2 separate regions of the Homo sapiens genome follow, and region 2 is linked to region 1. Evidence: fine-mapped expression QTL. Tissue or cell type: whole blood. Region 1 holds a variant in brackets; the other region holds the start of a gene. All regions are shown on one strand. Distances are from middle to middle.

Evidence for each region. PIP is the estimated chance that this variant, and not a neighbour inherited with it, causes the effect.
Region 2: it holds the start of MAGEF1, and the variant in region 1 is fine-mapped to the expression of MAGEF1 in whole blood (INTERVAL, PIP 0.95).

The regions. Positions count from the first base shown.
Region 1 is chr3:184,668,881-184,677,664 of GRCh38, reverse strand. No RefSeq gene overlaps it. Among named protein-coding and RNA genes, the nearest start is that of MAGEF1, 39 kb to the left of the region's middle. RefSeq lists an enhancer at 4,377-4,878. The variant G/A (reference allele first, on the strand shown) is at 4,364.
Region 2 is chr3:184,709,328-184,716,030 of GRCh38, reverse strand. MAGEF1 (MAGE family member F1) reads left to right here and starts at 3,967. Exons shown (of 1, transcript NM_022149.5): 1 at 3,967-5,667. The coding sequence starts at 4,210. The coding sequence ends at 5,133. It overlaps LOC107986163 (a long non-coding RNA gene), which reads right to left and starts at 3,788. Exons shown (of 5, transcript NR_160768.1): 1 at 3,613-3,788; 2 at 1-1,000. RefSeq lists an enhancer at 4,708-4,767.

The DNA of each region.
Region 1 (8,784 bases):
CGGAAGGAGCCCCCATTCTAGAACTCTCACTGGGAGTTCTGGCTCTACGAATGGAGTTGTCCCTGCATGGAGTCCTACAGGCCTGGATGCCACCAAAAGAGGGGGCAGTGGAATGCTACTCCCCCTCTAATCTGGCCACCAACTGCCACCTTATCTGCAGGCCCTGACAAGGGTGACAGAAGCTGATGCCTGGATGTCCAGCAGGCAGGACGATGGGAGAGCGGAGGGGGCAGATGGTAGAGAAGGAGGCAAAAAGCAGCCCCACTCACCCTGGGGAGGGACCGAAATCTCCTGCTTTAAAGCCAGCAGGTTCCGCCTCTGGGTATTCTCTCCAGCACCATTTTTCCTTCTTCACTACAGAGATTTTATTTCTCTCTTGCTTGGTTTGAGAACTGTCCTGATGCAGCGGGCAGATGTCTGAGTACTTGAGGGCTCCGGTGATGACTCCTCAGGGTCTCCGCCTGAAGACTTGGTTCAAAGCTCCCAGCCCTCTAGCAGACCTCACCCCTGCCTCTTACCGTTTCCTCTTTCCTTCCTCCTGCAACTTCCCCTTTCTCTGCCTGCATGCAGCCCCTGTGTCTCCAGCACATTCTCCTTTGGGTCTCCGCGTCTTTGGCACTCACGTTCTGCATGTTACTTATCCTGTCCATCGGCCAACAAGCAATGGGTCATGTCACTTTACTTCCCTGGTTTTCATGTCTATGAAATGGTAAAAGTCATGGATGGTGGTGGGTTGTCTGGTGGTCTTGAGAGTCCCTGCAAGACCTTCTACCCTAAGATTTGAAGTATTTACTTATTGATGCCCTGATGCCTGAGCGGGCATTATGGAAAAAAAAAAAAAGAGGCTGCCCAATACCAGCCTGACCAACATGGAGAAAACCCGTGTCTACTAAAAATGCAAAATTAGCTGGGCATGGTGGCACATGCCTGTAATCCCAGCTACTCAGGAGGCTGAGGCAGGAGAATCGCTTGAACCCGGGAGGTGGAGGTTGCAGTGAGCTGAGATTGCACCACTGCACTTCAGCCCGGGCAACAAGAGCGAAACTCTGTCTCAAAAAAAAAAAAAAAAAAAGAGGCTGCCCAATATGTGCACTGGGACTCTCTACCCTTCTTCATTCGAGGCCAGCCTAGGGCTGAGGAGTGATCCCTTTACAGATTCAAGCTGCCACAGGTCAAATGATAGAATGGCGTGCAGCAGGATGGGGAAGCCCAGTGGGAAACGGGGCAGCAGGATGGGCTGGAACAAGCCTTCAGCCCTACCTCTCTCCTTTGACTACTCCAAATATTCTTGACTTCTGAAAAATTCCCAAATGTTTCCGAGCCAAGAATCCCCCAAAGGAGTGGCTCAGTGTCTGGGGTTACAGAGACTTTGTTACTGCAGCAAAGCATACTACAACCCATTTACTGGTTTAATTTAATTATTTATGATAACACTTCAGAGTAAAAACTACACTTGTCAAAATAAAGGGGACTTTGTGCTGCAGTGACCCAGATTTTATTGTTGCATTACCTAATGCACCGAAACCTGGTAATCGGCACCAGATCTCCCTGCCACTTGGGCAAATCAGCACTGAATGAGGAAGGCTGAAATGGATTACTGCTTCCTGGGGGAATTATTTTCAACGATTCAAACAAAATGGCATTTTGATTTTCTTCCTCCCACTCTAGTTGCATCCCCTTTCCCCCAAATAACCTGGTTTCTACACATATATTTGACTGTTTGCCGTTACCTCTGTGCCCTTAGATCACCTCCCTTTCTTTGCACATACAGTTTCTTCTGCCTAGGATGCCTTCTCCACCACTCACTAGACAAATCATTCCTAACCATGTCGGCACAACAGATTCCCCCATGCATTTGAGAAGAAATTCAGATTTGGCCAGGCACGGTGGCTCACGCCTGTAATCCCAGTATTTTGGGAGGCTGAGGTGAGTGGATTACCTGAGGTCAGGAGTTCAAGACCAGCCTGGCCAACATGGGGAAACCCCGTCTCTACTGAAAATACAAAAATTAGCTGGGCATGATGGTGCATGCCTGTAATCCCAGCTACTTGGGAGGCTGAGACAGGAGAATCGCTTGAACCCAGGGGTCAGAGGTTGCAGTGAGCTGAGATTGTACCACTGCACTCCAGCCTGGGTGACAGAGTGAGACTCTGTCTCAAAAAATAAATAAATAAATAAAAGAAACCCCGCCTCTACTGAAAATACAAAAATTAGCTGGGCATGCTGTCGCGCGCCTGTAATCCCAGCTACTCAGGAGACTGAGGCAGAAGAATTGCTTGAACCCAGGAGGCGGAAGTTGCAGTGAGCTGAGATTGCACCACTGCACTCCAGCCTGGGCGACAGAGCAAAACTCTATCTAAAAAAAAAAAAAAAAAAGAGAGAGATAGAAATTCAGATTCCCGGGAGCCACACTGAAGAACTCCCACCGAGCTTAAATCTTGCCTCTCTATGAAGCCACCCCTGGGGTCCATGCCCTGTCCAGCACTTTCTCCTCCGTGGCTCACCAGCCCTCTGCCCTTTCCCCGACAGCTTCTACTCCTTGACCATAAGTCCTCTGAGGGCAGGGTCTTTCTCTTTTACCTCTGTATCCTCAGCAAGCATAGTGTCTGCCCACGTGGAAGTTCAATAAAAGGTGGCCGGTTGCATGTTGGGCAGTATTTTGAGGAATTAAGACTTTGCTGGAGTTATTCATACTAAGGTCAGAGCACCAACTTCTGTCCTCACCCAGACCCTGAGCCCCTCTCCTTCCCACCTGGAACCTGCAGGTCCACATTCTTCCTTGGGCAGAAATGGCCTTTTTTTTTTTTGGTTGAAAGACCTTTGAGGGTGAGAAATTCCCGGCTACACTGTGTGATGGGGCTTAGGGAGATGTGGATTCACAGCAGGGTACAATGGGCATGTAATCTGGCCTCACCATTCACAGCAAGCCTGTCAGGACCAGCTTCAGATGCTTACTCCTTATTAATGGCCCTCCCCTGAGTCCCAAGGCTAACAGGTTCTCTCAATACCCTACTGCCTCCCTCAGCTCCTGACACTCCATTATTCACAGCAGTGACCGTGGTGATGACAGCCTAGGTGACCCATGGCAAAATCTAGTGATAAGTAAGGAAGGGAAATTCACCTGTGGAAGGCCCCATCCACCCATCCATCCATCCACCCATCCATCCATCCACCCATCCATCCATCCACCCATCCATCCATCCACCCATCCATCCATCCATCCATCCACCCACCCATCCATCCACCCACCCACCCATCCATCCATCCATCCATCCACATAGTCATTTATTGCTAAGTCAGGAGGACACACACACACACACACACACACACACACACACACACACGACAAAGGAGACCTGGTCTCTGCAATTAAGGTGCTTACAATCTAGTTGGGGAGACAGATAGGAGTTACAATTCCAGTGCCCCAATCTCCATCCTCAACAACTCCATCTGTAGTAATTTCCCAGCGTTGGTGCTTTACGTTCACAAAGCACTTCCCGTCTGAGCTGGGGGTCCTCCCAAGGAGAGGAGGAGCACTCCCCAGTTTTGCCATCTCTAAAACCAAGTTGGAAAAGGTGGGCTCTGGGGTCCCTTCCTGCTCCAGTCCAGGTGGGTTTCTTTAGGAAGAACTCCTGGTACAGGAACTTCTTGGGACCCACAGTCTGCAAACTGATGGCTTCCTGGAGGTGTTTCCTAAGCAGCCAGGACTTTTCAAAGAAGACCTGATAAGCCATGAGGTCAGAGACCTTGGGGCTACTCAAACCGATTGCTGCATGCTAGAATTGCTTGAGGGCCTGAGGGGAAGAAATGGCAGTGCCTGGAACCCAACTGAATCAGTAGTTCCTAAAAGTTCCTCTGGTGACCCCAGTGTGCAGCCGGGGTTGAGAGCTGTGGACCTAACAAACTCTTCTATGCTTGAGGGGTCTGAAGCCAGGAGAGGCGTAACTTGAGTAGAGACACATGTAGAAAGTGCAAAGCTCAGAGCACAGATGCAGCACAGCTGAGGCCCTGTTTCCCATGCTGCTGGCTGCTTCTCCATGTCTTGTGAAAGCTTAGTCCTTTCTCACCCCACTTCCAAAGACGACCAGGCCCTGCTGGCCCTGGAGATCCTGCTCTGTCCCCATTCTGAGGACAGTGGCTAGAGCTGCTCCTGACCCCTTGATGTGTCCTTTCCTAATGTCCAGAGGAAGAGGGACAGGTGGGTGGCAGTTGAGGCAGGCCTGGGCCTTGAGTCCAGGGAGCGGCTTTTGCCAGAGAAGATGGTGATCATTTGATTTAAACAAACGGGGCTTGTTCCTGGAAGACGTTTGTCTGCACGGGGCAGCAGCGCCATTCATCATGGCAGCTCTGAGGCTGGGGGCAA[G/A]AAGTCAGCTTTTCAGGGCCCCGGCCCACAGGGAGGAGCTTGGGGGCTGCTCTCCCAGGACCAGCCCCGAGAAGATGTTAGGAAAGCTAATGAGCAATGGGACAGCTGCAGCTTGTTACAGAGCGCCCGGGGCCCATTGTAACTGAGACCTTTAAATATACATTGTAGTCAAATAACCAGCATCCTCCCGCCCAACTGCAGGTCCACCAGGGCCAAGCTGGTCCACGCCCGGCCCACCCAGCTCCTCCCTCCTAGCCTCATCCTTCTGTCTGAGGGAGAAAAACCACTCTCCCACCCTCTTTGACTGGAAAGGAATCGATTATGACTGCAAGAGCTGGGTGTAGCCAGGTTCTCTGACCATCCTCACTCTTACTTCCCTCTAAATGGACACAACTGTAGCTCCATCACTGCCCTTGTCACCCTACCTAAGTCCCACTGGATTTCAGAAAATCAGCATGGCACTGTGGGTCTTTGGAGAACCTCTATAGGACGTATCTCCCACCAAGTCAGAACCTCCTGAAGCCACTGACAGCCAGCCTAAAATGCCTGTTCCGTGGTCCTCCACTCATATGCCTCCTCCAAAGCCCACTTCGGAGATTACCAACTCTGTCGAGCCTTCCCCGGCTTACCAAGGCAGAGCTGGTGGCCTGTCCCCTACACTGAATAAGTGTGTGGGTCATACCTCTTAGCCCAGGTGAAGCCGGGGGCCTGTGTGAGCTCCTTGAGAACAGGGACCAGTTTATATTCCCGTCTGATCCCCAGAGGCCAGCAGGTGCATGACACCTCGAAGACCTCAGGAAATGTGTGCGAAATGGACTCCTGTACTCCATCCATCCCATCCTTAATGGACGCATCCATCCAACACGTGGTAAGTGGGCTCTGCACAAAGGGAACTCTCACCCAGCAGCACACAGTGCTGGGAGCCAGGACCCCAGGTGAGAAGCCACTGGTTGTCCTCAGGGTCATGTCTGTAGGAGAGGTATTTTAGGTCGATTTCTAGGGAAGGAATCCTGAGCAGCGATGTCTAATTTGAAAGTGGAGTAGTAGAGGCAGGAAGAGAAGGCAGGGTTATGAAGCAGAAGGTAGCACTGCTTCTCAACAGAGCATCTGCCCTCACCAGTGAGCCTCCATTTACCACTGTACTCCACTACATCCTGGGGTACTCACCTGCCACGGTGTGCCCCACTTCATCATGGGGTACCTCAGCTCCCCACACTGTACCCCACTTCATCATGGAGCACCTCAGCTCCCCACACCATACTCCATCATGGGTAGCTCAGCTTCCCACACCGTACCCTACTTCATCATGGGCCTCCTCAGCTCCCCAACCATGCCCCACTTCATCATGGGGTACCTCATCTCCCCACACTGTACCCAACTTCATCATGGGGCACCTCAGCTCCCCATACCATACTCCATCATGGGTACCTCAGCTCCCCACACTGTACCCCACTTCATCATGGAGCACCTCAGCTCCCCACACCATACTCCATCATGGGTAGCTCAGCTTCCCACACCATACCCCATTTCATCATGGGGCACCTCAGTTCCCCACACCATACTCCATCATGGGTACCTCAGCTCCCCACACCATACCCCACTTCATCATGGGGCACCTCAGCTCCCCACACCATACACCATCATGGGTACCTCAGCTCCCCACACCGTACACCATTTCATCATGGGGCACCTCAGCTCCCCACACCATACCCCACTTCATCATGGAGCGCCTCAGCTCCCCACACCATATGCCATCATGGGTACCTCAGCTCTCCACACTGTACCCCACTTCATCATGGGGCACCTCAGCTCCCCACACCATACTCCATCATGGGTACCTCAGCTCCCCACACCTTACCCTACTTCATCATGGGCCTCCTCAGCTCCCCAACCATGCCCCACTTCATCATGGGGTACCTCATCTCCCCACACTGTACCCAACTTCATCATGGGGCACCTCAGCTCCCCACACCATACTCCATCATGGGTACCTCAGCTCCCCACACTGTACCCCACTTCATCATGGGGCACCTCAGCTCCCCACACCATACGCCATCATGGGTGCCTCAGCTCCCCACACTGTACCCCACTTCATCATGGGGCACCTCAGCTCCCCACACCATGCCCCACTTCATCATGGGGTACCTCAGCTCCCCACACCATACCCCACTTCATCATGGAGCACCTCAGCTCCCCACACCATACTCCATTCATCATGGGCACCTCAGCTCCCCACACTGTTCCCCATTTCATCATGGGGCATCTCAGCTCCCCACACTGTACCCCACTTCATCATGGGGTAGCTCAGCTCCCCACAGTGTACCCCCTTCATCCCAGGGTACCTCAGCTCCCCACACCATACCCCACTTCATTATGGGGTACCTCAGCTCCCCACACCATACTCCATTCATCATGGGCACCTCCGCTCCCCACACCATTCCCCACTTCATCACGGAGTACCTCAGCTCCCCACTGTGTACCCCCTTCATCCCAGGGTACCTCAGCTGCCCACACCATACCCCACTTCATCATGGGGTAGCTCAGCTCCCCACACCATACCCCCACTTCATCATGGGGTACCTCAGCTCCCCACAGTGTACCTCCTTCATCCCAGGGTACCTCAGCTTCCCACACCATACCCCACTTCATCATGGGGTAGCTCAGCTCCCCACACCATACCCCCACTTCATCATGGGGTAGCTCAGCTCCCCACACTGTACCCCCACTTCATCATGAAGTACCTCAGCTCCCTACACCGTACCCCACTTCATCCCAGGGTCGCTCAGCTCCCCACAGTGTACCCCAATTCATCCCAGGGCCGCTCAGCTCCCCACGGTGTACCTCACTGCATTGCAGTGCCAGTCAGCATACCACCTCATACTTCAGCATAAGTGCCTGAGAGGTGCCGTGTCCGGCGTGTGGCATGCTCTGTGAGGCTGTGCCGTGGGCAGCAGAGGAGGTCTGTCTCTAAGCCTGCTGGTTGGGAGAGGAAGAGAGGAGAGATGAGGGACCTCCGAGCAAGTGGACAGTAGGAATTTCTCTGCTGCAGATAAGAGTCTTTCCCGTCACCTGTACCAGCCCCAATGATATGGGCCAGGTGTCAGACCTCACTGATGTGGACATCCCAAACCAAGTGGTTGTGCACACGCATGTATTTGTGCATGTGAGAGAGAGAGAGAATGTGTGTGTGTGTGTGTGTGTGTGTGTGTGTGTGTGTGTGTGTGTGTGTGTGAAATGACATCCCCTGAACATTGGTTAGTTTGTACAGGCATTGTGCTGGGTGTTTTATAAACATCAACACATTCCATCTTTATCAACTCCTAGGGGGATGGTATAATTGAATCCATTTTACAGGTAGGGAAACTTGAGACTTATCCAGGATCACTTAGCTTATAAATTGTGGAGCTGGAATTTGAACACTGCTTTCTCCGACTCAAAAGTCTGTTACCCCGTGTCATAGATAGCCCAAAGATCATTATCTTGCTTGTGCTGACAGTGGGGAAGGCAGCACAAATCAGATGCAGCCAGGCCTGCCGGCCTCTGGTTAAAATTGGTTACAGGCATTCTGCCCCAGGGATAATTCAGAGGAGTCGAAGTTGACCGGCTCTCCCTGTATACCAGGCTTAGTACGGAGAGGCTTCACCTCCCTAAGGCGACCAGCAGCAAGTTGACTTCTCCAGGCAGCAGGCAGACTTCCTGCACACCTCACACAGGTGTGTAGTGTCCAGGTGCCTTCCTCCCCAGCCAAACCGGGCTCCTCCCAAGCCTGGACACCAAGTCAGCCCCTTCAGCCCCTCCCCACACCCCCGTGGCCTTGACCTGCCATTGGGTTTGCAATGAAGGCCCAAGTCCAGTCCCTCCTGCCATCTTTTGCATCCCTGCTTCCTGGCCTTAGAACCCCACAGAAGCAAAGTGCATGAGGTTCAGGGTCATGCTGTCGAAGACCTCCTCTCTCTTCCCCTGGCTCCTTCAACACTTGCAACATTAGATAGTTCAGAGCACGGACTGGTCTTCTATAGCTAAGAAAACTCTGCAGAATCTAGCACAGTGCCTGGTACACAGGGCTGATGATGCATCTGTGTAAGTTGCTTATAATATAGAGGCTGTCAGCCAAGTGGCCAGGTAGGGGTTGAACTCCCCCCTCCCACAGAGATATTGTTTGCTAGCTAAGCCCTGCACCCAGGAGACTGTATCTGCCTGGGAAAGAGGTAGTGTTTGTTCTCTGATTCACGCAAAGGCGCTATGTGTATGCTGGTGCTGAAGTACTGTACCTCGTTGAACAAACGAATGGTGAATAAGTCCAACCTATTCTCTAAACCTTAGCCATAGCAGGTGGGGATAGACCTGGGCGCTTGGGCTCACTCCCGTTCCCTCCTCCACTTCTATTTCTGTATCTCCCTTTCCCATCTTCACTCTGTGCT
Region 2 (6,703 bases), 39 kb before region 1:
TTTTGAAGACTCTAGTCTAGGCTAAGAAGGATCCTCTCTCAAGAAGATTCCAACCCAATAGTCATTAAAGCATATGTTTCGTCATCTCCCAAACCAAAGGCATATATCTTTTGTCCCTTTTAAAAGTTTAGGTAAGGAATGTGTTAAAAGTCTGCCTGTTGCCGGAAATGGTGGCTCATGCCGGTAATCCCAGCACTTTGGGAGGCCGAGGCAGGCGGATCACGAGGTCAGGAGATCGTGACCATCCTGGCTAACACGGTGAAACCCCATCTCTACTAAAAAAAAAAATACAAAAAATTAGCTGCATGGTGGCAGACGCCTGTAGTCCCAGCTACTCGGGAGGCTGAGGCAGGAGAATGGCGTGAACGTGGGAGACGGAGCTTGCAGTGAGCCGAGATGCGCCACTGCACTCCAGCCTGGGCGACAGAGTGAGACTTCGTCTCAAAAAAAAAAAAAAAAAAAAAAAAAAATTCTGTGTGTCCGGTTACATGGTGGACATAACAAAAAAAAAAATGGGAAAAATTATTGTTTGCATTCCTTCCACTGTAACATGGTAACATCTAGCGATCGGCAAGTGGTAATGCAGAGTCCATTCACCTTTCTTACTCCTCGCCTCCTCCCATACCTAAAGGGCTGTTCATTTTTTAAAATCCTTTTTTATTTTTATAAATTTTGAGGTATGATTCATACACTATGAAATGCATACCTGGCTGGGCATGGTGGCTTACACCTGTAATCCCAGCATTTTGGGAGGCTGAGGCAGGCAGATCACTTGAGGTCAGGAGTTTGAGACCAGCTTGGCCAACATGGTGAAACCCCGTCTCTGTTAAAAATACAAAAATCAGCCAGGTGTGGTGGCAGGTGCCTGTAATCCCAGCTACTTGGAAGGCTGAGGCAAGAGAAGCACTTGAACCTGGAGGCAAGGGTTGCAGTGGCAGGGGTTGCAGTGAGCTGAGATTGTGCCATTGCACCACTCCAGCCTGGGTAACAGAGTGAGACCCTGTCGCAAAGAAAAGAAAAGAAAAGAAAAGAAATGCATAGCTATTAAGCGTACAGTTTCACAAGTTTTGACAAATGTATACCTACATCCAAATCAAGACACAGAACGTTGCCATCACCACTGAAAGTTCCTGGATACCCCTTTCCAGTCAACACCACCCCAGGCCTCCACTGTCCTAATTTCTATCACCATAGATTAGCTTATCCTGCCTCGAACATCAGATAAATGGAATCATATTATACGTATAATCTTTTGTATCTTTCATCTGTCACTCAACATATCTGCCAGACTCATTCACATTGTGTCAGTAGTTTGTTCCTTCTTATGAGTAGTATCGTCATTTATTCAGTTCTTAAAATCCAGCCCTATTACCACAGATTTGTCCCTCAAAATTCTTTTCATTTAATATATCTTCTGCATGCTCCTTTCCGTGCATGTATCTCCTGCATATCTCCCTGGCAATCCTTGTAGTGAGGAAAATATGTAAGTGGACTATTTTATCTCTAGCACTGTCCTTTTAGGTATGGGTGGCTCTCTCTACCTTCAGGAAAAACAGATAACCAGGCAGTCTTGCTTCAGAGTTTACAGATCTGGGTTTTCATTTCTTGTCTAGCACTTAACAGATGGGTGGTTCAGGGCAGGTGATTTAACCTCTCTGTGACTGTTTTCCCATTTGTAAATGTGGATAATAATACCTTCTTAATAGGGATTTGTGAGGACAAAATTATATTGTACATAGAATGTTTGGCACAATGAAAACTAATAATAGCCTCAAGCTAGGCTATAATAAACATCCTCTCCTGCTTCATTCACATACTTCCAGGTTTGTAAGTCATATGATACAAGTGGGTATAAATTTTCAAAAGTTTTTAAAAGGAAGATTTCATATTTAGATTTAGAAAAGTCTATCAGATATTTACTTAAAATAAGTAACTGTTATTTCCTAGGGAAAAAAGTAAAGCCTTCTGTCATTTATTCATTGGCAATTATATATCGAGTATTGACTAAGAGAAGCTCTTCAAAAGAGTTAAAAACATAGCCCTAGCTTTTAGGATGTTTGGTTTGGGGAGGGTAATAAGATAAGCACAACAAATTATAATACAAAATATAGTAAATGATAATAATAATAATTAACATCTATGAATGTAGTGGTTAAGAGCACAGTCTCTGGAGTCATACTATATGGGTTCACATCCCAGCTGTGTGATGTTGGGCAAGTTACTTAACCTCCTTGTGTGTAACCTCACCTGGAAAATGGGGCTAATACCACTTACCTAGCAGGGCTACAGTATCAGAAAAAAGTGGCCCAGGGTGTTTGAGCATCCTGTACAAGGTCACAGAATGGGTGAGTACTGACCCGGTTCAGTGCTATGTCCCAGGACACCTCCTCCGCATCTCCACAGAGTGCTAGGCATTCCAGGACAGTTCATCTTGCAATTCTAATATTGTATATTGCATATAAAAATATGCATTAATTAACAGCTAACATGTATTGAATATCAATATGTGCCAAGCACTGTGTTAAATGCTTATGTGCATTACTTCACATAATCTCCACAATGCTGTTACTACTATTATACTCATTTTACTGATAAGGTAACAGAAGGGCAGAAGTTTAGGTAACTTGCCCAAGATTACATAGCTAGTAAGTAGCAAACTGTGTCACAGAAAAGATACAATCATCTATAAAATGGGGATGATGGTATTAGTACCTACATTAGTGAGAATCTGATGAATTAATATTTGAAAAGTGATTAGAACGGAGCCTGGCACCTAATAAAGCCTATATATGTGGATGTTAACAATTGCTAAGGTGATTCAGAGATGACAGTAAATAACTTCTATGCGTGGTGACTAAGGAAGGCTTGGGAAGGTGATGTTTAAACTGGGCCCTGAATAGTGGACAGGATTTGGAGAAATGGAGGTGATAGAGAGGGCATTTCTGACAGGGAAGGAAGGGAGGGAGGGAGGGAAGAAGGAAGGAAGGAAGGAAGGAAAGAAGGAAGGAAGGAAGGAAGGAAAGAAGGAAGGAAGGAAGGCAGGAAGGGAAGGAGGGAAGGGAGGGAGGAAGGAAGGAAGGAGGGAAGGAAAGAAGGAAGGAAGGAGCAAGAAGCAGAAGAAAGCTCAGAGTGTGTAAAAAGAGAAAAAGAAAAGAAATACATGGGAGTAGTCAAATTTGACTTGCGCAAAAAAAAAAAAAAAAAAGAACAAACTTCCCCTTTCTTCCAACCAGTCCCTATTCCTGCTGTACTTCTCAGTATTTTCCTCTTATCCCCATGGAATCTGCTGTCCTTACTCCCTCATCATAATGATCCATTGAATATTTATTGAGTTCCTCTCCGTGTCAGGCACTGCTCTAGGCACCGAGGATACAACCCAGTAAATAGGCCGGGTCCCAGTTCCTAGTTTGCACTATAATAATCCTCCAAACTGGATTCTAGCTTTTAGCCGGCCGAACTCCAATCTATCTTCCACAATACCGCCAGAACCGAAGACACAGATCTGGTCTGGACACTCACTTGCTTAAATCCCGCTGCAGTATTTTCTCTTTACGTCCAGAATAAATTTCAGTCTCCCTAGCATCCTTTACTAATTGGTTCGCACAGTCTTACCTCGCAGCCTTCACCGTGCACTCTGCACAAGAGCCCCGGTAAAGCACTGAAAATCCCAGATACACACACTCACAAATAGGCACTTGCAGAAAGAACGTGGGGGGCACTCCATCCCTATTTCATCTCTTGTACACCGAAACATTCCCCAGTCTGCATGCCTTGGATGGGAGAGTCCTGGTTACATTCCCCCGCCCCCGACTTTTCAAGCCTAAAATCCGTCACAGGGCGCACCCCCGTCCCCACCCTCCAGGGCATTTCCACTTATAGCAGCCTGGGCACACCCCCAACCCAGAAGGGACCGGAAAAGGAGGGGCTGCGCGCGGCACTAGGGTCGCCGTCCTGGCTGAGGTGGCCGGAAGTGGCCCCTCGCGCGGGCGCGGACTGAGGCTGCGCGCCGCAGGTTCCGGCTGCTGGCGGCGTTGCGGCCGCAGGTTTGACTCCCGTGCGGTGCGGCCCAGCAGCCACAAAGCTCCCGCTGCCATTGCTCCTTGTACTCCCGCCGTCACTGCCGCTGTCCAACCCCTCCCCCGGGGCTTGCGCGGCGGCTCCCACACCCCTCGGCCCGTGTACGCGCTCTGCACCTGCCTGCCCGAAAACATGTTGCAGACACCAGAGAGCAGGGGGCTCCCGGTCCCGCAGGCCGAGGGGGAGAAGGATGGCGGCCATGATGGTGAGACCCGGGCCCCGACCGCCTCGCAGGAGCGCCCCAAGGAGGAGCTTGGCGCCGGGAGGGAGGAGGGGGCTGCGGAGCCCGCCCTCACCCGGAAAGGCGCGAGGGCCTTGGCGGCCAAAGCCTTGGCAAGGCGCAGGGCCTACCGCCGGCTGAATCGGACGGTGGCGGAGTTGGTGCAGTTCCTCCTGGTGAAAGACAAGAAGAAGAGTCCCATCACACGCTCGGAGATGGTGAAATACGTTATTGGAGACTTGAAGATTCTGTTCCCGGACATCATCGCAAGGGCCGCAGAGCATCTGCGGTATGTCTTTGGTTTTGAGCTGAAACAGTTTGACCGCAAGCACCACACTTACATCCTGATCAACAAACTAAAACCTCTGGAGGAGGAGGAGGAGGAGGATCTGGGAGGAGATGGCCCCAGATTGGGTCTGTTAATGATGATCCTGGGCCTTATCTATATGAGAGGTAATAGCGCCAGGGAGGCCCAGGTCTGGGAGATGCTGCGTCGGTTGGGGGTGCAACCCTCAAAGTATCATTTCCTCTTTGGGTATCCGAAGAGGCTTATTATGGAAGATTTTGTGCAGCAGCGATATCTCAGTTACAGGCGGGTGCCTCACACCAATCCACCAGAATATGAATTCTCTTGGGGTCCCCGAAGCAACCTGGAAATCAGCAAGATGGAAGTCCTGGGGTTCGTGGCCAAACTGCATAAGAAGGAACCGCAGCACTGGCCAGTGCAGTACCGTGAGGCCCTAGCAGACGAGGCCGACAGGGCCAGAGCCAAGGCCAGAGCTGAAGCCAGTATGAGGGCCAGGGCCAGTGCTAGGGCCGGCATCCACCTCTGGTGAGGGTTGGTGAAAAGTTGGCCAGTGGGTCCCCGTGAGGACGAACTACTGTCCTGAGTCATAAGTAATATGGGTGGGGCGAGGGTCTTATTTCTGTAGAAATCGTGTGACTTTAAGGATTTAGATTTTGTATCTTATGTTTTGTAACATTTAATAATTACTGTTAAAATGCTGTTTGTAAATGAGATTGGTCTACTTTTTCCTGTAGGATTTTATTGTAGAGTTTTGCTGGTTTTGTAAAATGGATGGAAGAACTTTGTATTTATACTGTGATTTTGAACAGATTATGCAACATTGGAAGGAAGGCTGTACTTTGATGGTTTGAAGGAACTCAGCAGTATGATGATCTGGTTCCAGGGGAAAAAAATAGCTGGTTGGTGTCTAGCCCCCCAACACTTTTGTCTGTTGTGTATAAAAGAAGAAAGACTGGCATGTACCTTCATTTGCTTAGCTATTTGAGTATCTAGAGAAAAATTAAAATGCAATGAGTTAGCAGTATACCCTGGCACACTTAATAAATTAAACATTTGTGGAGCATCTTGTTTTCTGTGATGCACTGTGTGGGCACTTGGGGATAGAATACTAAACAAGATAAAGGTCCTACTTTTTTTCAGAATTGAAGAGTAAGTAAATAAACAAGAAATTAGCAGTGCAATGAGTTGAAGTCTACAAAGGGATACTTAACCCAGCTGGGATGATTGAGTGAGGTTTGCTGTAATCCCAGCACTTTGGGAGGCCGAGGCGGACTGATCACCGGAGTCAGGAGTTCAAGACCAGCCTGGCCAACATGGTGAAACCCTGTTTCTACTAAAATTACAAAAATTAACCAGGCGTGGTGGCACACACCTGTAATCCCAGCTACTTGGGAGGCCAAGGCACAAGAATCTCTTGAATCTAGGAGACGGAGGTTGCAGTGAGCCGAGATCATACCACTGCACTCCAGCTTGGGAGACAGAGCAAGACCCCGTCTCAGAAAAAAATAAGAAATAAAAATAATGATTTCAGATCACAGCTACTCCTCAGTAATGTGAGCAGACTTGATACATGGCAGATCTGGGAAATACTCTACCTTTGCCAGTGCTGTCTTTCCAGACCAGATTGTTAACAGTGCACAAAGATGTTGACTGTCAACTTTTTGGCCCTTTCTGTCTCCTTTTCAACCTCTACAGGGTTCCCTCCTCTACCAAAGCCCTCAGAGATCAAATAATGTAACACCTCTGGAATATTATGTAGTGTGGATGAAGGGTACCTAAATCTACTACTACCAAGAAGTTCCACTTCAAGATTTCTCCTCTGGCACCAGGAAGCCCAGTTCCCCCTTCCATGTTTCTGCCTGCTGCTTTCCACCTGCCACCTCCCATTTACAGGAGACTTGTGAGGTATCCCTCCCCTTCATGTTATCCGTGGAGAGTCATCTGTAAGGAGCTCTGGCTTCTTCAATGCCCACCACCTTCTGCGTGAGGGTAAATCCTGTAGAAAGGGTACTTAGAATAATAGGGAATTTAGAGAAGTGATTCCCAAACCAGAGAGTGGGTGAGGGTCGGGGGCAGGGTGGGCGGATGGTGAAACTTCC